Regions from separate parts of the Homo sapiens genome. Here region 2 is linked to region 1. A link means that fine-mapping ties the variant in region 1 to the plasma level of a protein whose gene starts in the linked region. Region 1 holds a variant in brackets. A gene starts in the other region. All regions are shown on their forward strands. Region 1 holds the start of ORM1 (orosomucoid 1). Region 2 holds the start of CLEC1A (C-type lectin domain family 1 member A).

Evidence for each region. PIP is the chance, under the fine-mapping model, that this variant and not a neighbour inherited with it causes the effect. The UK Biobank Pharma Proteomics Project read protein levels with antibody pairs (Olink). The fine-mapping took linkage between variants from a reference panel, not from the people measured, so its PIPs are less certain.
Region 2: CLEC1A starts here. The variant in region 1 is fine-mapped to the plasma level of the CLEC1A protein (UK Biobank, PIP above 0.99).

What each region holds. Positions count from the first base shown.
Region 1 is chr9:114,317,745-114,329,668 of GRCh38, forward strand. It overlaps ORM1 (orosomucoid 1), which reads left to right and starts at 5,354. Exons shown (of 6, transcript NM_000607.4): 1 at 5,354-5,503; 2 at 5,919-6,061; 3 at 6,274-6,344; 4 at 7,046-7,153; 5 at 7,305-7,408; 6 at 8,548-8,735. The coding sequence starts at 5,390. The coding sequence ends at 8,613. LOC105376224 (a long non-coding RNA gene) reads right to left here and starts at 699. Exons shown (of 3, transcript XR_930255.3): 1 at 450-699. RefSeq lists an enhancer at 125-419. The variant G/A (reference allele first, on the strand shown) is at 7,388.
Region 2 is chr12:10,092,353-10,104,636 of GRCh38, forward strand. CLEC1A (C-type lectin domain family 1 member A) reads right to left here and starts at 6,633. Exons shown (of 6, transcript NM_016511.4): 1 at 6,456-6,633. The coding sequence starts at 6,570.

The sequences.
Region 1 (11,924 bases):
CTAAAAATACAAAAATTAGCCAGGTGTGGTGGCAGGCGCCTGTAATCCCAGTTATTCAGGAGGCTGAGGCCGGAGAATTTCTTGAACCTGGGAGATGGAGGTTGCAGTAAGCCAAGATTGTGCCACTGCACTCCAACCTGGGTGACAGAGCCAGACTCTGTCTCAAGAAAATAAAGAGAAAAAGAACTAGATTCAGGCTGTATGTGGGCACCATCTACAGACATCAGACACACACATTTAGGAGTAATAATGATGCAATATTGCCAAATGTTTCTCAGCAACCATGTGCAACTGTTGCATGTACTGTTTATTTCTAACTCAGGAGGATCTCTCTAACCACACATTGCAAGAAAATAGACTTTCAGTGTTTCTGGCAAAACAAAGAGTTTTTTTGTTGGCATTTATGCTGAAAGGGAAGAGTTAAAATGTTAATTTGTCTTTTTTCTTACCTCCAAGTTCACTCAAATCCTCTCTTGAAGCAGTGTCTGTCTCCTATGTCTGCGGTGGCATCATCCACGAAGTATCAGGACATTTGACCTGTTGTTTTCAGAGTCGAGTGCCACATGTAGAGATTGTTTCCTGGGGCCTAAACAGTGTTGGTTGTGAAAGAGAATAATCAGTGATGTGGGTCCCACTGTGCCAGTACCAGGCACCAGATCCCAAAGGACAGAGGTGCTTATCTGTTATTTAATAAACTGTTGTGTGTGGGTGGGTGTGTGGGTGGGTGTGATATGTGGGGCTCTCTAAATCCCTGGGCCCCAATAGTCCAGGTCTAATGGTGGTGCTGTCCCCAACAATGCTCAGCTTCTCCTCAAAATACATGGTATCTGGGCTGGGCACGGTGGCTTACACCTGAAATCCCAGCACTTTGGAAGGCCGAGGCGGGTGGATCACTTGAGGTCAGGAGTTCAAGATCAGCCTGGCCAACATGGCGAAACCCTGTCCGTACCAAAAATACAAAAGAAATTAGCCAGGTGTGGTAGTGACACCTGTAATCCCAGCTACTAGGGAGGCTGGATAGGAGAATTGCTGGAACTCGGGAGGCGGAGGCTGCAGTGAACTGAGATCGTGCCACTGCACTCCAGCCTGGGCGACAGAGTGAAACCTTGTCTCAGATAGATAGATAGATAGATGATAGATAGATAGATAGATAGATAGATAGATAGATAGATGATAGATAGATGATAGATAGATTAGATAGATAGATAGATAGATAGATAGATAGAGATAGATGATAGATGATAGGTAGGTAGATAGATGATAGATAGATAGATAGATAGATAGATAGGTAGATAGATGATAGATAGATAGATGTTAGATAGATGAATGGTATCTGGAGTCTGTCCCCATCATCTCACCCCTGGACCACTGCATCAGCTCCAGCTGGTTTCTCAGGTTTAATCTCCTTCCCTAGCCCTCCCCATTCTTCCCATTCAGACAGAGCGATCTTTCTGAAGAACCAATCTGGTTATGCCTTTCCAACCCCTTTGAAATCTTTCCATTTCTCTCCTACACCTCCTAAGTCTAGCGAACCCCTCAGCCTGGCTTCCATGCCCTGCAGGCTCCATCTCCTGCCAACCTCTTCAACATAAAGTCTGGCCACTCCCACTTATCATGTGCTCCAGCTGCACAGACTTTCCAGCTCCCTGATACACCCACTCTCTCACCTGCGCTCTTCCCTCTTGATAACTCCAATCATTGTTTCAAGCCTCAAATTAGAGCAATGCAAATTCAAGAAACAAACCAAGCTGGCAAAAACACAAAAAAGAAAGGAAAAAAAAAGGGTCATTTCTGTTCTGACAAGGATGGGGATAAGGAGACTCACTTGTACACTGCCAAACTGACATTCAAAATCCTTAGTGCTTTTGGATTTGTCATGTTTGGGAGGAGGGTTTTTAAATCATCGGCTTTCTTGAGGTTGAATAAATAAAAGAAAATGCACACATTTTAGGTTTACTGTTCAATTAGTTTTTACAACTATACGTGTGTGTGTATAATGGCCACCACGATGACAACCTGGATCGTTGTCATCCACTTCAGTGTTCTCTCATATGCTTTTGCAGTCAAATTGCCCTCTTTTGCCCTTGGCAACCACTGATCTGATTTCTAAAATTATAGATTTGTTTGAGCTGTTCTAGAACAGAACCGTACAGTATATAAGCTCCTTTGTATCTGGCTTCTTTTGTTCAGCATAGTGTTTTTGAGATTCATCCATGGTGTTATATGTATCAATAGTTTAACTATTTTTATTGTTAAGTAATATTCCTTTGTAAGAAAATGCCACATTTTTATTTACCATTTTCCTGTTGATGGGCATTTGGATTGTTTCTTTCTTTTTTTTTGGTTTTTGTTTTTGCTTTTGTTTTTGTTTTTTAGACAGTCTTGCTCTGTCACCAGGCTGGAGTGCAGTGGCACGATCTCGGCTAACTGCAAGCTCCACCTCCCAGGTTTGAGCGATTCTCCTGCCTCAGCCTCCTGAGTAGCTGGTACTACAGGCGCATGCCACCACACTCAGCTAATTTTTGTATTTTTAGTAGAGACGGAGTTTCTCCATGTTGGCCAGGCTTGTCTCGATCTCTTGACCTTGTGATCCGCCCACCTCGGCCTCCCAAAGTGCTGGGATTACAGGCGTGAGCCGTGGTGCCCCACCCTTGGATTATTTCTAATTTTGGCTATTTTGAGCAATGCTGTTATGAACATTAATATGTAAGACTTTGTGCATAGCACGTGGTTTCCTTTCCCTTGGATACTAAGGTAATTTTAAAAGGGAAATTGGCTGCTCTCTGACACTTATCATCAGAGGAAAAATCACAATATGAAATGCTGTTAGATAGGCTGGGAGTGGTGGCTCACGCCTATAATCCAGCACTTTGGGAGGCTGAGGCAGGAGGATCACTTGAGGCCAGAAGTTCAAGACCAGTCTGGGCAACATAGTGAGACTCTGTCTCTACAATTTTTTGTTTTTTAAATTTAATTAGCCAAGTGTGGTGGTGCATGCCTGTAGTCCTAGCTACTCCAGAGGCTGAGGTGGGAGGATTGCTTGAGCCCAGGAGTTTGAGGCTGCAGTTGAGCTATGATTCATACCACTGCACTCCAACTTGAAGAGCCTGAAAAAAAAAAAAAAGTGCTGTAGACATAAAGGACATGACTAAGTAGGTTAGAATATAGTAAGCGGGCCAGGCGCCGTGGCTCATGCCTGTAATCCCAGTACTCTGGGAGGCCGAGGTGGGCAGATTGCTTAAGCTCAGGAGTTCGAGACCAACCTGGGCAACATGATGAGACCCCCATCTCTACAAAAGTACAAAAAGTTAGCCAGGTGTGGTGGCACGCACCTGTGGTCCTAGCTACTCGGGAGGCTGAGCTGGGAGGATCTCTTGAGCCTGGGTGGCAGAGGTTGCAGTGAGCCAAGATCCCACCACTACACTCCAGCCTGGGCGACAGAGTGAGATGCCATTTCAGAACAAAAACAAAAACAAAAAAAGAATAGAGTAAGTGAATGAAAAGTTGTGCATCCATTACACTTTTATTTATTTATTTATTTATTTATTTTTGAGACAGGGTCTCTTGCTCCATCATACAGGCTGGAGTGTAGTGGCAAAATCACAGCTTACTGCAGCTTTGAACTCCTGGGCTCAAGCAATCTTCCAGCCTCAGAGTCCAGAGTAGCTAGGCTTTCAGGTACATGGCACCAGACCTGGCTAATTTTTTTGTTTGTTTGTTTGTTTTCCTTGAGACGGAGTCTCACTCTGTCACCCAGGCTGGAGTGCAGTGGCGCCATCTCAGCTCACTGCAAGCTCTGCCTCCCAGGTTCACGCCATTCTCCCATCTCAGCCTCCCAAGTAGCTGGGACTACAGGCGCCTGCCACCACGCCCAGCTAATTTTGTTTTTGTATTTTTAGTAGAGATGGGGTTTCACCATGTTAGCCAGGATGGTCTCCATCTCTTGACCTCATGATCCGCCCGCCTCAGCCTCCCAAAGTGCTGGGATTACAGGCGTGAGCCACCGCGCCTGGCCGACCTGGCTAATTTTTAAATATTTTTGTGTAAAGATAGGGTCTCACTATGTTGCCCAGGCTAGTCTTGAACTCCAGGACTCAGGTGACTCTCCCATCTTGGGTCCATTAAGCTTTTAACTACAAACTACACTGAAATATGAAAGTTATTCAGAATGAAATGAATAAGAATGCAAAATTATAATCATACCGTAAGAATACTTTCTGAGTAATCCCAGCACTTTGGGAGGCCGAGACGGGTGAGTCACCTGAGGTCGGGAGTTCCAGACCAGCCTGGCCAACATGGAGAAACCCCATCTCTACTGAAAATAACAACAACAAAAAAAATTAGCTGGGCGTTGTGGAGGGCACCAGTAATCCCAGCGACTCAGGAGGCTGAGGCAGGAGAATCGCTTGAACCCAGGAGGCACAGGTTGCAGTGAGCCGAGATTGAGCCATTGCACTCCAGCCTGGGGGACGGGAGTGAAACTCCGTATCAAAAAAAAAAAAAAATGAATACTTTCTGAAAGTATTTATTCATACAAATAAAGACTTGACCCGTGAGGTAGGAACACAAATGGGCCACGGAATCACTCATTCCACAGAATATACCGAGTGCCCTTGAAGTGCTGGGCACTGCTCCAGGATTGGGGGCGTATTGGTGAAAGAGAAGCAAGCTGCCTGCTCAGATGGCAGGGAATGGGGGAAAACAGGGAGACAGTTTCCTGTTTGAGATGTTGGGAGATGCTTCGAGTAGTATATTTACTGGAAATAGACATTCAACTTGGATGTCCCTTTTTGGAAATGTGCCTGCGTCCAGGGCTGGGTTGGGGCCCCAATGAACTTTGGCTCTGACACAGCTGTTGCCACACTCAGTGGAACTGAATCTATGTTTGTCTTCCCCGGCATCCTTCACCCCAACTCTCCCCGCCACAACATACATCCCATGCCAGCCTGGGGACCCTCAAAGGTGGCTTCATCATTAGGTTTGTGGCTGGGTCCCACTGAAGTAAGTCTTGGCACTCAGAGGGATAGGAATTGAATGAAGACATGAGATTCCTCTGCGGGAGGCCTCTCTAGGAAATCTGTGGACTCACACGTTTACTAATGTTGCTGCAGCCCCGCACCCACCTTGGCCTTGGGCAGCCATACTCTAGGGCTTTTGTAACCTCTCCATGTGAGGAACTCAAATTAGACCTGGGTTTGGAGGCGGTGCTCCGAGCTGGCCTTTGGGGGAGGTTTTGTGCGAGGCATTTCCCAAGTGCTGGCAGGATTGTGTCACAGACACAGAGTAAACTTTTGCTGGGCTCCAAGTGACCGCCCATAGTTTATTATAAAGGTGACTGCACCCTGCAGCCACCAGCACTGCCTGGCTCCACGTGCCTCCTGGTCTCAGTATGGCGCTGTCCTGGGTTCTTACAGTCCTGAGCCTCCTACCTCTGCTGGAAGCCCAGATCCCATTGTGTGCCAACCTAGTACCGGTGCCCATCACCAACGCCACCCTGGACCGGGTGAGTGCCTGGGCTAGCCCTGTCCTGAGCACATGGGCAGCTGCCTCCCTTCTCTGGGCTTCCCTTTCCCTGCTGGCTGTGGTCGGACCCCCACTCCCGGCTCTGCCTTTTTCTCTTCTGGGTCCCCAGGGTGAAATTCTCACCAGCCCAGGGGACTCTGGAGGCACCCCCTGCCTCCAAACACAGAAGCCTCACTGCAGAGTCCTTCACGGAGGACGGTTCTGTGCTGGGCCTGGAGGGGCTGCCTGGGGGGCAATGACTGATCCTCAGGGTGAGCTCCTGCATGCGCACTGCCCACCAGGGGCCTCATCTCCCCATCTGCAAAATCAGGGAGAGATCTGCCTGAGTCTCCTCCCAGCTGACAGTCAAAGATTCAGCATCAAGCCCCCATCACCAGCTCCCACCTTCTCCCCAGATCACTGGCAAGTGGTTTTATATCGCATCGGCCTTTCGAAACGAGGAGTACAATAAGTCGGTTCAGGAGATCCAAGCAACCTTCTTTTACTTCACCCCCAACAAGACAGAGGACACGATCTTTCTCAGAGAGTACCAGACCCGGTGAGAGCCCCCATTCCAATGCACCCCCATCTCAGCTTCTGGCCAGAAGACCTGAGCAAGTCCCTCCTTCTTCCTGGCCTTGGCCTTCCCATGGGTGGAACCGGGAGGGCTGGCTTTAATCTCCACCAGACTCTTGCCCCAGGACTGTGATGGGCGATTGGCCACTTCTCAATAATCTTCCTGTTTTCCTTCCGCCTTCTGTTTGGCTTTAGACAGGACCAGTGCATCTATAACACCACCTACCTGAATGTCCAGCGGGAAAATGGGACCATCTCCAGATACGGTGAGGGCCAGCCCTCAGGCAGGAGGGTTCACTGTGGGAACAGGGCAGGCCAGCATAAGGTGGGGGCTGGATGTAGAGCCCTGGAGGCTTTGGGCACAGAGAAATAACCACTAACATTTTTGAGCTCTAACGATGTGCTCAGAAACAACTCTAAGAGGACACTGAGAGAATTAGAGGAGGAAAAAGAAGAACAGAGACCTCAAATAGTTTCCCCAAGGTCACACAGCTTATAATTAGAACTAGAATTGGAACTCCAGGCTGGCTTCAGATCTGCCTCTCTCTCATGCCCTCTTTAAGATCCTTTGCAAACCAATGGTAGAAGCCTGTATGTTGGAGAGGTGGTACCTTCAACTATGTCCCCCATCACCGCAGAGGTGGCACATGGCAGGGAGCTGATGGAGCTGAACTGACACCATTTAGCATCCCGAGCCTCCTCTCTGGGCCTCATTTTCCTCATCTGTAAAACGGAGAAAGGCCCTGACAGCCACGGTCTGTGTGAGGCTCCTGAGATCTCATGTACAGAAAGTGCTTGGCGTGGAGCTGGGCATGCAGCAGGGGCTGGGCACACGGTGGCCCAAAGGAGCCCTGGGCCTTCACTGATGGGCTGTGTGGCCACTGACACACCTAGGCCTCCTCACCTGTAAGACAGACACCATTGTGCCATCCCATGTTCTCACCCAGAGGCTCCTTTTCTCTTCCAGTGGGAGGCCAAGAGCATTTCGCTCACTTGCTGATCCTCAGGGACACCAAGACCTACATGCTTGCTTTTGACGTGAACGATGAGAAGAACTGGGGGCTGTCTGTCTATGGTAGGCATGCTTAGCAGCCCCAAACTCATGCCCCTCTCAGGCCTCACCCCCCATTCACCCACCCCTGGGCTGGCCCCTAGAACCCCAGCCCTCCCTGGCCTCCCGCCGGGCCCCACCATGTCCCCAGTCAGTCTCCTTGCTCCCCCTGCAGCTGACAAGCCAGAGACGACCAAGGAGCAACTGGGAGAGTTCTACGAAGCTCTCGACTGCTTGCGCATTCCCAAGTCAGATGTC[G/A]TGTACACCGATTGGAAAAAGGTAAACGCAAGGGATTGGACAGTGCCCACCTTGTCCATGGCCCAACTTGGGCAGCCCCAGAGGCCCAGAGCAGGAGAGCTGCCAGGCAAGGCTGCACAGCTAGGCAGATCTTCTGCTTTTAGGCACCTGCCTCACTGTAGGGACAGCTGAGCTCTACAGAGGCCCAGGGGTGGTGGATGAGAGCCCAGGAGGGAGAAGTCCCTGTGAAACCAGGGAGGACCTGAAAGCTAACAGGAGGGAACAGCGTGAGCCACGGGGTTGGGGGATTGGCAATTGGAGGGGACGTAATGCGGGGAGTTACCACCTACAGACGCGTCCCAAACCCCAGGCTTTCACCCCACCTCCACTCCCCACTCATTTTTAATACCCGTGCAGTGGGGAATTGATACTGTGGTTTTCAATGTCACCCACACTGCAGCACGGCCACAGTCACCATCCCGATTTTTGCTACAAATGAAAATTACTTTATAATGAGCTCCTTAACACTTTTCTTTAAACCTGTGTTTGGAAGACTTGCGTTGGTGTGGCCCTGTGCCCAATACCTGTGAAATCACAGCACCGATGAGCTGGTTCCAATTTTTAAAATATATACATGCAGTACTTCCATGACTATTCAAAGAAAAACAATTCCTTCCATTTGCCATCTGAGATGACCACCAGTGGTGTGAACTACCTCCTGCCCCCATCTGCAGTCCCAGGATCCTGGGACAGGGCTTATGAACACAACCACTGTAGTCAGCTCACCTGATCCACAGCCTGGCACCCCCACTGTCTGGCTAGGGAGCCTCGAATGGGTCCCAAGGCCACCCTGCTCCTCAGTTACATCATCTGCATAGTAGTGGTGGTTGTGAGGAATTCAGGAGCTGCAGCATAAGGGCTCGGCAGGTCCTAAGTGCACAGTAAATGCCAGTGATTCTTAAGAGTCTGAGCTCCCATTGTAGAGGCAAGTAAGCTGAGGTTCAGAGACAGAAAATGACTTGCCCAAGATCACCCAGCTGGGAAGTGACAGTGCCAGGGTTGGAGCCCTGGTTGAGCTGGTTCCACAGGCCAGAGCTCATTCTGCCCTCTCCCTGGAAGACCTCCCACCCTGTCCCCATGCCTCTGCTTCTCCCTCACCCCAATTCCCCGCTGCCTTCTAGGATAAGTGTGAGCCACTGGAGAAGCAGCACGAGAAGGAGAGGAAACAGGAGGAGGGGGAATCCTAGCAGGACACAGCCTTGGATCAGGACAGAGACTTGGGGGCCATCCTGCCCCTCCAACCCGACATGTGTACCTCAGCTTTTTCCCTCACTTGCATCAATAAAGCTTCTGTGTTTGGAACAGCTAAGCTGTTAGTCATTTGTTCATTCATTCATTCTGAAGCCTGCCCTGAGTTCAACCCTGGCTGGGCACTGGATAAGACGCTGTCCCTGGTGGGAAGAGCCCCACACGTGCCAGGATGGAGGATGACAGGCACCGAGTGCTGTGGGAGCCCAGCACTGTGGGAAGACATTTTCTTCTGCAGGGCGAAAATCTGGGAAGGCTTCCTAGAAGGGGCATCTGAACCAATCTAGAAAGATGAGGAGCATAATACAACCTGCTGTTCTGTGTACAATGTGTGATGATCAAATCGGGGTCATTTCCACCACCTCAAACATTTACCATTTCTTTGTGTTGGGAACATTATCACACAGTTCCCCATAAATATGTACATTATGTGTCCATTTAAAACAATACAAGCAAACAAATGTGAATTTCTAAACTGAGACTACTGTAAGGCCTTTCTCCTAATAGCAAGATTGTAATAAAACTTCAACTAGTCATAAAAAAAAATCCTTTTCTGTTTCTGCTGCAAGCAAGGAAATGAGAGGATGCATTTGAGTAACCTTGAGGCAGAAGACCCTAAACAGGAGTGGAGGTGTGATATTGTTTGGCTCTGTCCCCACCCGAATCTCACATGGAATTTTCAGCCCCATGTGTTGGAGGCGGGTCCTGCTGGGAGGTGATTGTATCACGGGGCTGGTTTCTAATGGTTTAGCCCCACCTCCCAGGTGCTGTTTCTCACAAGGTCTCATTGTTTAAAAGTGTGTAGCACCTCCCCCTTCGCTCTGTCTCTCCTGCTGTCTTGTGAAGAAGGGACTTGCTTCCTCTTTGCCTTCCACCATGATTGTAAGTTTCCTGAGGCCTCCCAGCCATGCTTCCTCTGAAGCCTGCGGAACTGTGAGTCAATTAAACCTCTTTTTTTCATAAACTACCCAGTCTCAGGTAGTTCTTTATAGCAATGTGAGAACAGACAAATACAAGGTGGATGGGGTGGGGAGAGTTCAGGCATGTGGTGCCTATCACAAGGACCTTATTCCAGTATTACCATGGCCATCGGGGGAGGCACGTTGTGGGGACCAGGCTGGAGGCAGGAAGGCCTGAGTGAAGGCTGCTGTGGGCAACTAGGCAAGAGGCGGTTGCCTGGGCCAGGACAGGGCAGGGCAGGGAAGGGCTGGGGTGATGCAGAGGGCTTGGGGCCCAGGCCAGAGGGGCTGGGTGTCTCCATGGACGTGTCCTCAGGGTGCTCACCTGGGAGACCCAGAAGAAGGAGACAACACGTAAGGGTGAGGCTGGTCCCTGGAAATCAGTTGACATCTTGCAAATGTGGAGCCCTGAGGTGGAGCCAAGCCCGAGGCACAGCCCACTCAGTGGCACAAGCCACGAAGGGCCGGCCTCACCCAGACCTGGGGGCTCATGATTGACAGCCTCTTGTTACGTGAGGGAAGCAGCACTCCTCCCGTGGCAGAAAAGTTGGGCCTGAGTTGTTCCATCTATTCCGTATGTGCAGCTGCGTACACCATACAGGGTGATAAGACCATGAGCCTGAGGCTCTGACACCCCAGGGTCCAGTCCTGTGTCCTCAGGCACCACTCCCCTTTGTACCTCCTGTCCCAACAGCCAAGCTCCACAGGGCCAAGACTACAGCATCCTTTGCTCAGCACCCAAACCACTGCTGTGCCCACAGCACGGAGGCTGGGGACACCGAGCTGATGTCCTCAGAAGGCAAGTGGACAGGACAGCCTCTGGGGTCCCACAGTGGCCTGGAACTGAAGGCTCAGAACCTAAAAGAAGTTTCCCCATTTCAATGTTACTTTCAGTAAGACACCATTTTCAACCATACTGAGGAGGATCCGCTGAAAAATGAAACAGAAATGAGTCGTGATGGGCAGGGCAGGGAGAAGCAAGGGAGACGAGAAGTGGGGAACATGGAAGGAAAAGCCACGTGAGGAAGAAACCAGAGGTCAAGAGAAAAAGAATCATGGAGGTAGAGGAAGCAAAAAACACACATAACAAAGAATGTGGACTTTGGAGTCAAACTAATGTGAGTCCAAACCCAGGCTCTCTCCCAAACCAGTTTGGGCAGATGGCCCAGTGGAACCTCACTCTCCTCATCAGTAAAAAGGGGGCAGAGTGAGGGTCCTGAGAGCTAGTACAGGGACTGTGTGAAGTAGACAATGCCCAGTGTTTAGCGTAAGAATCAGGGTCCAGCTGGTGCTCCCTAAACAGCAGCTGCTGTTCACTGTTGAAAGGCGCTCTGGAAGGCCAGGCGCGGTGGCTCATGCTTGTAATCCCAGCACTGTGGGAGGCCGAGGTGGGCGGATCACCTGAGGTAGGGAGTTCGAGACCAGCCTGACCAACGTGGAGAAACCCCATCTCTCCTAAAAATACAAAATTAGCCAGGCGTGGTAGCACATACCTGTAATCCCAGCGACTCGGGAGGCTGAGGCAAGAGAATTGCTTGAAACCAGCAGGGGAGGTTGTGGTGAGCCAAGATCGAGCCATTGCACTCCAGCCTGGGCAACAAGAGCAAAATGGCGAAACTCCATCTCCGAGAAAAAAAAAAAAAAGAATACTTTCTGAAAGTATTTATTCATACAAATAAAGACTTGACCCATAAGGTAGGAACGCAAATGGGCCACGGAATCACTCATTCCACAGTATACACCGAGTGCCCTTGAAGTGCTGGGCACTGCTCCAGGATTGGGGGCATATTGGTGAAAGAGAAGCAAGCTGCCTGCTCAGATGGCAGGGAATGGGGAAAAACAGGGAGACAGTTTCCTGTTTGAGATGTTGGGAGATGCTTCGAGTAGTATATTTACTGGAAATAGACATTCAACTTGGATGTCCCTTTTTGGAAATGTGCCTGCGTCCAGGGCTGGGTTGGGGCCCCAATGAACTTTGGCTCTGACATAGCTGTTGCCACACTCAGTGGAACTGAATCCATGTTTGCCTTCACCCGGCATCCTTCACCCCAACTCTCCCCGCCACAACATACATCCCATGCCAGCCTGGGGACCCTCAAAGGTGCTTCATCATTAGGTTTGTGGCTGGGTCCTACTGAAGTAAGTCTTGGCACTCAGAGGGATAGGAATTGAATGAAGACATGAGATTCCTCTGCGGGAGGCCTCTCTAGGAAATCTGTGGACTCACACGTTTACTAATGTTGCTGCAGCCCCGCACCCACCTTGGCCTTGGGCAGCCATACTCTAGGGCT
Region 2 (12,284 bases), not on the chromosome of region 1:
ATAGCAACATAGTGAGACCCCCATCTCTATAAAAAATTTTTAAAATTCATCAGCCATGGTGGCACACACCTGTAGTCGCAGCTACTCAGAAGGCTGAGGTGGGAGGATTGCTTGAGCCAGGGAGGTCAAGGCTGCAGTGAGTCGTGATCGTGCCACTCTACTCCAGCCTGGGTGACAGAGCAAGATCTTCTCTCAAAAGTAGTAATGAAATGAAATGAAATAAAATAAGATAAAATAAAATAAATCTGCTTTCTCTCGCATAATATTGAGGACATAGGAGTTGTTGTTTTCTGCCCAAAGGACCAAAAAGAGTGAATTTAAATTCCTACTGTGAAGTGAGGGCCTGGACTTTAGAAATCAGAACATCTTTCAATAATAATTATATTCATGAAAAGAAAAAAAATACATGATCCTTCCTAAGATTGCCTCTAGGGCAGAAAAAATAAAAGAAGTATAACAGGCTTTAAAAAGTTTTTAAAAATCTCTTCTAAGAAATCCTCTTTCTCTGATCAAATTTTCATATTTTGAAATTTTTCTTCTCTCTTCCCATCTCCCTCTTGCTCTCTCGCTTTCTCTCTCTCTCTTTTTCAAAATTCTCCTTCCAATCATTCTATATAAAAGACATGGAGAAACACAATCCTAGGGAGTTCATCTTCCAGGAAACCAAGCTCCCATGACGGAAAGTCCATGAAACTGAAAGTTTCACTTTTTCTTTTTCTTTGATACTATTTTTCCTTCTAGATGTTTTTCTTCTAACTGTGAGTCTAATGTTTCTCAGTTTTATTCCAAGTGCTCCTAATCATACTGAAGTCTCTCTCCAGGGATCACCCTCACCCTAACATGAGACAGATTTTCACAAAAATAAGATGCCTAGGAGGTCGCTTGAGTTTGGTTTGGCTTTATTGTGGTTTTATTTTTTGGAAGAGAACCCCTTTGCTGTCTCCTGAGGCATGTTTAGAAAGGGGTGTGGACAGGCCAAGGAATGATATAAACATCCCTAGGAATAATAAGATATATATAGAAAAAAAAAAAAAACCTTTCCTGTATCCTCTTAGTATTAACCATACTATAAAAGGCCTTAGTGCTAGGGTCAAATTTTGGATACCAATTACTGTGTAATTATATGAAACTTTGTGGGTGGAGAGTTGTCAGACTTAACCAGTTACCCTTCATCAGGCATCAGAGAGGGAAAATTTTGTTTTCCACCCAAGAAACTAAGCTGACATTACCATATACAGTCTATTAGTATACCTATGAAATGCAAAAGGTCTTAAAAGCTGGAGAAGACACCGAGAGTTTAAATAATGTGCATGTTACAAACTAGTTGCAGAGCTAGGATTAAATTATGTTTAACGCTATACTCTGCACACTTTTCCATGAGCCAGTCAGGAATCACAGAGACATGGGGGCAAAACTGGTGGCAATGTACATAATATTTCAGAAAGCACTTTTTCATCCCTTTGTATTTTGAAATGTAAACGTCTTTGTTTCCTTAATCCTCACATATGGCACATAGGAAACTTCCTCATGGGAATCTGAGTTCACGGGTTGAGTCTGCTTTTCTGTGTTCATGTAAATGCAGGTTTCTTTTCTCTTATGAATCTATTTCAAATATTGCTATTTTCATACTCTCTAAATGAAAATCTGTGTTATCCTTCCTATTATTTGAAAAGAGTATACATCTAAAAACATATGAGCTATTTCTAGAATATCATTGAGGTTCTAATTCACAGTATTTAGAAATTTAATTATATTTTTCATCTTCAGTAAAAGTTAGGTGACTCAATTTTATATCCCCATCAACAGATATTATTTACTGAAATATAATTCAAAAACAACATTACCATTAATGATAATTGCTCAAATTTCTTGAGTTACTGAGAAAAATGTCTTATATGAATGTTCTCATCTAGCCTCACAAACACCCCCTATAAGGTAGATATTATTATCTCATTTTACAGGTAGGGAACTGAGGCCTAGCAGGTTTAGACAGCTTATTCAGGAACACACAGCTACTATTAGCAATAGTTACTAATGAACTATTAGTAACTCCCCAGGATTGTGTTTCTCCATGTCTTTATATAGAATGATTGGATGGAGAGTATTGAAAAAGAGAGAGAGAGAAATAGTTATTAATAGTAACCATAAGTGTGTTCTAGATACACATTATTTCACTGGAAGCAACCTTTACAAAAATTGAATTACCAAGGAGTCACTTAAGTTGCCTAAGTCACTAAGTTGCACAGAGCTACCCAAGCTGACTGATTCCAGAGCTGGACATTTTCAATCATCTTCCTATCCTCCCAACACATCTCAGATCAATATTTATACATGGCAGTGCATCTGGAATCATAGAATGACAGCAGCTTGCAACTTTTCCCTTCTACATTATGAAATGTCCACTCTGCCAGCAAGATGAATTCTGAAAGCATAAATTTAATCATACTTCCTCTCTTCCATAGGAAGAAGTTTCCCAAGGCTCTTTCTGTTTTAGTCAGTTTCTTAGTGTACTGTATCAGGCTCCTCCTAATAGGATCCCATTTTACTTCTTAGCCTCATGGGTCCAGATCATGTCACTTCCTCTGGGAACTCGCAAAACTAAACTCAATCAGTAACTCATTCATTCCTATATTGCTTCTGCGGCCTCCAACATTGATTTAATAGCACTAAATGACATTTACTACAACTATTGATTTAGAGTATTCCTTCCACTTCTCTAAGCACCTGAAAAAGAGGCTCCTCTAGTACATCCCATAATGTCTTGTCATTAGTAGGTTTGATTTAAAGAGTTGTTGAATCAGTTAACAGCGATTTATGTCATGACTGTGATGAGGGATTTATGCTGTAATTGAGGAAATAAAACTAAAACGCTGGGAAATTCAATAGTACTGTAATTAATGTGAACAAGGGAAAAGAGGAACTTGAATTTATTATTAAATTTTTTAAAATTATTTAACCAAAGTAATTTTTCATATTCTTTTGATAGGATAAAATTTAGTCTCTGGCAGGAATCTCAGCCTGTCAGTTATTTCATCCTCTCTCCTCTTACTGTACTGTTAATGTGAAGTTCTCTCCCTGAACTTATTTTCAATCTACAATTGAGTTAGAATTTCCCACATCTTAAAAAATCATTCTTAAAATCTGTCACCCAATGCTGTAATACCTCAGCAATAACCCATTTTATCTTCAAAAAAAAAGAGAGAAAGAAAAAGAGAAAATGACTTAAATTGTTTATTTTATTATGTAACCATCAGTTCCTTTTCAAACCACTGCTGTCAAAACTAAATATTTTCCTCCTTATTGATAAATTGTTAAATAATCATTTTAGTCTTCCTTTCGCTTAAACTCTCTGCAGTATTTGTTATTTGTTGTTTTTAAAACTCACAGTCATTATCATTGACTTTTCTAAAACTCTTGAATTTATTGTCCTTCCATTACTCTAATTTTCCATTACTCTTGAATTTATTGTCTCTTGATGCCCTTGTTGTCTCTCTCCAAGACTCCTGCTTCTACCACTCTCTGCTATTCATCCCTGGTAGCTCCTTTTGGAATCTTTCATTCTTCTTGCTCCTCAGGTGTTGATATTCCCTCAGATTATCTCCTTGACACTCTCTTCTGTTCATTCATGTTTTCATTTTACATTCCTTCCCTCAGTGATCTCACTCACTCTCATACATTTTAGTTACTAGCCATTTATTTGACTTAATGACTTAGGTACCTCATTTACTTTATTTATTTAATTACTATGCCAGTAATTCCCACATGTCTATGTAGCCCAACCCACATCCTGCATATACGGGTGTCTTTGGACAGCTCCAAATGCATGTCCCTCCTTCTGCAGACCCCTTAAACTCAAACTCAATTCATCATCTTTCCTGTCCCTTCTATAGTTTCTGTCTCAGTTAACATCAGCACCATCTACATTACATCAAACAGAACCTAGTCAACCTACCACCGAAGTCCCTTTCCTTGTCTCCTCACATGTAACCAATCACCGATTATCTAAACTCCAACACCTCGACATCTTTCATATCTGATTCTTTTTCCTTATTTTTACTATACTGCCTCAGTTCAGGTTTTTCTACCCTTGTACTGGACTAGTGGAAAAATTTGGTATCAGCACATGCAGTTTCATATACCTTCAACTTATCATTTCCATTGCAGCCAGGAAGGTCTTTCCAAAATGCAAAATTTTGTTTCTCCCTATCTAAATCCTGCATTGACTTCATTTTAACTATTGAATAGAATTAAACTAGATCAGCATGCCCTAAAATCCCTCCTTAACTTGCCAGACTTACCCCTTTGCTAAGTTTCCCTCCTCCAACTCTACACCTACGCCATACATATTGCTTATAGTTCTCTAAAAATACAAAGCTACTGAAAACCTTCATGACTTTCCCTTCATACGTCTCTCTGTCTATAGTGTCCCCAGCCTCTCAAACACCCTCACTCCCGATTCCTTATTATGTGGAAGATGTTAAAATTAACTCAACTCCACAGTTGCTCCTTCTGTTAAGCCTTTCCTGAACTCCTCTACTTAATTAGGTAAAAATTAAGCCGAGAGCTTGGTTAAGCTCTCGGCTGTACTGTACATGCTTCTGCCATAACACCTTATTATACTTACTCCTTAGTTGAGAATTGTATTAGACTTTCAATTTCCTTATGAACAGGGACCATATCACATTGGACATTATATCCTCAGTACTAGGATAACATGACCCCAAACATAAGTTTGTGAAAAATGTATGAGGTTGTTGTTTTTCATTTTCACTATCTTAATTGTTTGGCATTTTTACTATCTTAATTGTTTGGCATTTTTAAACACAAACATAGTTGTTACGTCAATTGTTATTGACAAAAGTCTAGAAATTAAATGAATGTGTGTGTGATTTATTTTTATTAATTCTAAAAAATAAAAGTTGCCAGCTCTTAATGGTATCACATCATTATGTTGAATCTGAATCCTCCACATTGCCGAAAATTTCTGAGTGATTTCTGCTGTTATTTTTATCAGCGAAGGTATATCAGATATGTTTATCTAAGAAATAATTATACTTCTATGATGGTATTCCCCTAAATGTTTGTATTACCATAAAAAGATGAAAACAAGATCTCATATATGTTGCCTAAGATAACTATTTCCAGATGATTTCTTCCAAGACAATTCTTTGTAATCTCCACTTCTACTGTTTCAATATCCATTTCTTACAAAGAAGCTCCCAGATGTTGCAGCTAGTGTTTTATCTTGCTCCACCTCCCTCTCCACCCTTCAACCTCAGCAGAACTTATTTGTACATGCTGTTCTTAATTATGCTGATCTCTAGTCCTTGACAGAGTTCCTGGCTCCAGTCAAAGGTGGAAAATGAAGTTATATACAAGCTACTCAAAACCACAGCCGTAAAAATGGACTCTTCGTAAGTTTTTTTGGAGGAAAACGCTTTGTATCCTATTACACATATCCTGTGGCTACAAAAGCTGACATCCCTACTTTTGTCACTTAGCTTCATTTCAAAGAGGTTGGAAATCCCCAATGTCCCTTAACAGCTTACTGGGTAGTTTAGTTAAAAAAAAAAAAAGCCATATTAGTAGGTTTCAGGTGGAGGGTCATTTAATAAATAGAAATAAATAGAAAGTGAATGGAGGGTTTAGTAGGAGAAAGGAAGGAAAACTAAAAGTTATTTGATAAAGAAATAAGGAACAGGATAGTTTTTTTTTTTTAAAGGTATATCCAGATTTACAAAGGTGAAGAAAACAATGATATAATCAGAAGGGAAAGGGCATATTAAAACACAGGCACTGAATGAATGTTAAAATGTGGGATTCCTTTCAACATTCCATTTCTTAAGAACCTAAAGTGTTCCTTTCAGCAATTTTGTGTCAGTCTATATCAGATCAGACAGACATTCAAATATTTTACATAATTTATCATTCTCAGTACTCACAACCACCTTGTAAAGGAAGTTTTATTACTTCTATTTAATATTAAGTCAAGTTAATATGAATTAATATACTTAAAGTATTTAAAACACTGCCAGCACATAATGAGCCCTTTATACATGTTTGTGGCCGTTAATATTTTATAAATAAAGAATATGATGCTACCAGGATACTTAAACAACTCATCCAAAGTTACACAGAAGGAAAGTGGCATACCTGGTTTAGGACCTAGAACCTAGTCCTGTGTATATTACCATGTGAGTCCTTTTCACTAGAACTGAAGTCATATTTTAGCTTTAGATTGGCTGAGTGGCCCAGGAAATAAAATCCTTCTCTAAGTGTGGGAATTATGGAACTGAATATAACTGAAAAAAAAAAATCACTACTATGTCACAGGGCGAGTAATTGGAAATAAAATTATAAGATGCAAGCTAAATATCTCCATTTCTAGGAGGGATAGATCATCTCACACATTTCACAAGGACTGTGGTCTATTTGGACTCCAGGAGACAGGGTACCTGTGCGCCGGGGCTCTGGATGCCGAGTTGTGGCAGAGCCTTGAGAATGCAGGCTCATGGTGGTGTCCCCATCATCATCCAGCATGTCCCTCGTGCTGCTGTACTTGGCCTGCATCTGGATTCCTACAGCGGTGAGAGTGAAATGTGGTCGGATTGCCCTGGGCCGCCGGGCTACTGTGAGCTAGTTCAGGAAGCAAGGCACTAAAAGGCATTCCTAATGTTCTTTCCCAGCGAGGGGCAGGGAAAGTCTCTGACTGCAATTCCTGACTGGACAGGCCCAGCCCCTCTCCTGTGAGCTTGTACTCTGAATGCCAAATCAGTCAGGCTGAGGGGAAATAGCATGTGTTTTCTGTTTAGGCCGTCTCAGTCTAAACAGTTGTCAAAAAGTTGGCCTTTCTCAGGTCTTTTTTGTTTACCTGTTTGCATTTCTCATGTAACTTCACTGTAAAGAAGGCAAGAACTTACAATAGCACGGTGTAGCACTGTGGTTCCTTCAGAGTCTGCAGAATAATAATAACTTGGAAGGACACACATCCCTGTTTCTTACCCATCCTTTAGGGAGTCACTTAGTTTAACCTCTCTGTGTCTTTGTGAAAAGAGAAGAGATTATAGGACCTAGCCCCTTCCTTTCTCCAAGAACAGAGTAGTGGTCTTTCTTATAGTATCTGAACTTGATTCAACATTTTATAGCACATTTGGTACATTATGATCACGAGGAATTATACAATTTACTGGAAGTAAAAACTTTTAAAACTATTACTAACCACCATGTGGTTTGGGGAAGCCAGTTCATTTGTGCCTAAATCTCCTAAACTGAGAAGAAAATGTTTTAGGTAATGTGAAAAAATTCTTCCTGAATCAGTACATTAGAATTATATTCCCATCTTAGTCTGTTTGTGCTGACCTACAACAGGATACCTGAGACCAGATAAATTATAAGCAATAGAAATGTATTTCTCAGCATTCCAGAAGGTGGGAAATCTAAGATCAAGGCACTGGCAGGTTTGGATGTCAGGTGAGAGCTGCACTCTCTGTAGAGGAGGAAGGGTATTCTCACGTGGCAGAAAGCAGAAGGTCAAGCCAGCCAAATGCTACATGTAGCGTCTTTTATAAAGGCCTTAATACCATCCTCAAGAGAGAAGACTTCAAGGACTAATCATCTCTTAAAGGCCCCACCTCTCTCAATACTACCACACTGGCAACACCTGAATTCTGCAGGAAACACATTCAAACCATAACAAGACAGGTATCAGTAACAACCTTGTGCCTTTGGGAGGACAATTAACAATTTGCATCTACATTTCCTAAACTGAAAGACAAGAAGATTGTTTTAGATAATGTCTAAAAGTTCTTCCTGAATCTGTACAATAGACTTATATTACTCTACCAAAACTTTTCCAGATGTTAGGTGATAGGTGGGCAAAATCAAGCATGCTAAATATAAAGGAGTGTCAGAATGCTCCAGTTGGGGTAGCCAGACCATATAAAAGATCTATGAGGAAGTGCACATTGTGGATTCACATGTGTTTCAAGCTGTTTGTTGTTCATCAAATTATTCTAAATTTTTTAAAAATTGGAATTTTTTTTTTTTTAGATGGCAGATTGGAGGCAGTGTTAGCATGACTCTACCACTTGGAAGGACAAAATAGTGAGTAAAAAATTCTCACTGTGGGCCAGCCATGGTGGTCACGCCTTTAATCCCAGCACTTTGGGAGGCTGAGGTGGGTGGATCACCTGAGGTCAGGAGTTCGAGACCAGCCTGACCAACATGGCAAAACCCCGTTTCTACTGAAAATATGAAAATTAGCCGGGCGTGGTGGCGGGTGCCTATAATACCAGCTACTGGGGAGGCTGAGGTAGGAGAATCACTTGAATCCGGGAGGCGGAGGTTGCAGTGAGCCAAGATCACACCACTGCACTCCAGCCTGGGCAACAGAGCGAGACTCCATCTGAAAAAAAAAAAAAAAAAAAAAAACCTTCTCACTGTGAACTCTTTTCCCAAGAAGCAACACAGGAACTGAACAGGAAAACTGAAAGAATCCACAGACTCTTTGAAAGAAGCAGCAGGTTATACCTACACCATGAGCTAGGTGAAAAACTGTAAGCTCCCAGGGTGTGTGAGGTGAAGAGACTGGCTCCAGGATACATACCCCCACAGGGGAACCTGAAAGTCCATGCCATGGGGGAAGGCCTTAACCCGTCCCAGCACTGGAACCAATTAAAAGAGCAGTGATGAATATAAAAGTAAGAGCAGCAGCAGGAAGAGGCTTGTGTGCATTCCCAGTCTCCAGCATGAGCCAAGGGAAACTATTCCTTATGCCTCACAGACAACCTCACGGAACTCAGCCAACTAGCTCAGCCAGGGGTTGCACATTGTAAAAACTCCCAACTGAAATTCACAATATAACCTCAAGTGAAATGAACTCCCTTGGCCAGAACCAGAAAGGTGAGTGGGAAATGTGTTGCAGCCGTGAGTGCAGGATCTGGGTGCCAGCTGTGTGGGTGGACAGAGAGGGGCATGGCCTGAACGCCAGCAGTTGCTATCACCACGGGAAAAGTTTATGGCCTCAGGCAGTTGTGAGCTCTGAGTGCAGACTGCCTGGAACTTAGCTCACTGCTGCTAGCAGAGTACTGCAGGAGCCAGATCTGCCTTGCCAACTGTGTGACATCTGGGTTAGGCTTACTGCTGCCTACTACTCCCCACTCCCTGTGCAACCACATCTCCAAAAGGGGCCGCTGCTTGCCATGCACATGGTGACTCAGAGTGCAGACCCACCTAACACAGCCCTCATCTGGCTTTGCCCCTCCACCCACCGTGGTAGCTTAATACAAAGGACAGAAACCCTGGGGAGATTTATAGCCCCATCCATCACCTGAGAAGCCAGACTACCTACCCTGGGCAACATAAGGCAAGCACAAATCCCACTGCTACTACCACACCTGATACTCTTTTGCAAATGCCACCCAGTAGCTGGAAGCCTACCAACACAGTCCATTGCAGCATCTGTAGGTGGAATAACACTGCACTCAAGAAGGACAAAACTACTGTGTGACCTCAGCTATTACCACTTCCTGCACTACCCTGTCTAACCAGGAGGTCCTGAGTCTATCCACATGACCAGTTTATTACTACCTGAACTAGCATTCAAGAAAGACAACACACTAAAGTTATCTATAATCAAGGAATCTCACAGGTCTATGTCACGCCTCTGGCACCCCCATCAGACCTGGTGCTGATAACAGCTGCTGGAAAACTGGAGGACAGGTCATATCACTGGATCCTTAGCAGACATCCCCCAGCACTAGTCTGGAGCCACTGAGTGGCTAGACCCTGAGGAGCAGCAGCACTCATAGTAGTCTGTCTCTCAGGAACTTCTACTCCTAAGGAAAGGGAGAGTGTGCCACATCAAGGGAACACCCTGTGTGAATAAAGAATCCAGATGGCAGGTCTTAAGGATTAGATTGTTCCACTGGTGGGAAGTTTCTTTCAATAGAGGCAGAATTGAAGTGCTGGGCTCAGCAGGGAATGTCTACAGCTGTCCCAACAGTCAGACAGCCCTGGTGCTTATCAAGGATCTTGGAGAAGGGGACTTCTTACCAACCTCGTCCACCACTGCAGACACAGCTGGGTCTTCTCCCACAAGAGCTCAGCATGGGTGCACCCATAGACAGACTTTGTAGAACACTTCAGGGTGACCGCAACCCCACAGGGGAAGCAACCCTCCAGTTTCAGGCTTACATAAGAGGCAGAGTCACAGTTCTCTACTTGGAGCACTAACATTCCAGCAGATGAAAAGAGAGGCCTGTCTGATCTGAATAGCCAGAATATTGGGACAGATGTGAGTCTGGGAGATGGATAGCTTCCCAGCTGACCTGACAGGGGAGCTAAGGTGGCTACCACCCTTCCCCTGATAAGACTTCAGTGTGTCTCCCTGACAGCTCCCCCAGCCCCTTTTGTCAAGGCTGAGACCTCTGCCCACCATTGGGTATTGCATTTACCCACCTTCTTTAGCCACAACTGGTTCCTACCTAGGAACACCTCCACTACTGGCCTGAAGCCTGAACCATCAACCCAGTGAATAAAATACTGGAGCAAAGTAAATAAATTTAAAAGTGCATACCACATTGGAATGAGATAAGCTTCCAGAGACAGTAAGTTTGCTCACACATTCAGCACATTACTACTATGTCTAGCATCTGAGAAAGCCATCATACAAAGTTTCTCTATAACCAAGGAAATCATACAGAATTTTCACCCCTAAAAGCACCAAGAACCAAATTAGGCTATAACAAACTATAAACATTAAAGTCAAATTCTTAAGAAGGAAAATAAGAAATAAAATCACACAGTCAAATCAAAAATAAATTTAAGAATAATTAGAAGAAATAGTCTACCCAGATGAGGAAGAACCGGAAAAGTAATTCTGTTAATATGATAAAATGGGGTTCTATAACACCTCCCAAAAGATCACATTAGCTCTCAAGCAATGAAGCCAAACTAAGATAAAATCTTAGAAATACCAAATGAAAAATTCAGAATGTTGTATAAGAGCTACTCAAGGAGATACCAGAGAAAGGTGAAAACCAACATAAAGAATTTTTTTAAAAAATTCAGATTATAAATGAAAAATTTTCTAGAGAGCTAAATATCATAAAAAAGGAACGTCTGGAAATGAAAGGCACATTTAGGGAATTACAAAATGCAGTGGAAAGTATTAACGATAGACTAGAACAAGTAGAAGAAAGAATTTCAGAATTCAAAGACGAGGCTTTCAAATTAAGCCAATCAGACAAAAATGAAGAAAAAAGAATCAAGTAAATGAAGTCTCCAAGAAATATGATAGTATGTAAAACAGCCAAACCTAAGAATAATTGGTGTTCCTGAGGGAAGAAGAGAAAACAAAAAGTTTGGAAAACTTATTTGAAGGAATAATTGAGGAAAACTTCCCTGGCCTTGCTGGAGATTTAGATACCCAAATCTGGGAAGCTCAAAGAACTCCTGAGAAACTCATTGCAAAAAGATCACCACGAAGGCATAGTCGTCAGGCCATCTAAAGTCAACATGTAGAAAAGAAATCTAAGAGCAGTCAGACAAAAAGCATCAGGTCACCTATAAAGGAAAACCTATCAGACTAACAGCAGACTTCTCAACAGAAACCTTATAAGCCCAAAGGAATTGGGACTCTATCTTTAGCTGCCTTAAACAGAGTAACTGTCAGTCAAGAATGTTGTATCCAGCAAAACTAAATGAAAGAGAGATAAAATGAAATGAAAGAGAGATAAAGTCATTTTCAGACAAACAAATGCTGAGAGAATTTGTAGTGCTACCAAACCAGCATTACAAGAAATGTGAAAAGGGCTGGGTGTTTTGGCTGATGCCTGTAATCCCAGCACTTTGGGAGGCCAAGGTAGGAGGATCACAAGGTCAGGAGTTCGAGACCAGCCTGGCTAATATGGTGAGACCTCATCTCTACTAAAAATACAAAAATAAGCTAGGCCTGGTGGCTCATGCCTATAATCCCAGCACTTTGGGAGGCCAGGGCAGGAGGATCACCTGAGGTCAAGGGTTTGAGACCAACCTGGTCAACATGGTGAAAACCCATTTCTACTAAAAATACAAAATTAGCTGGGCGTGGTGGTGGGTGCCTGTAATCCCCACTACTTGGGAGGCTGAGGCAGGAGGATCACTTGAACCCAGGAGGTGGAGGTTGTGGTGAGCCAAGACCATGCCATTGCACTCCAGCCTGGGCAACAAGAGGGAAAAGTCCATCTCAAAAAAAAGAAAAAAGAAAATAAAAAATTAGCCAGACATGGTGGTGGGCACCTGTA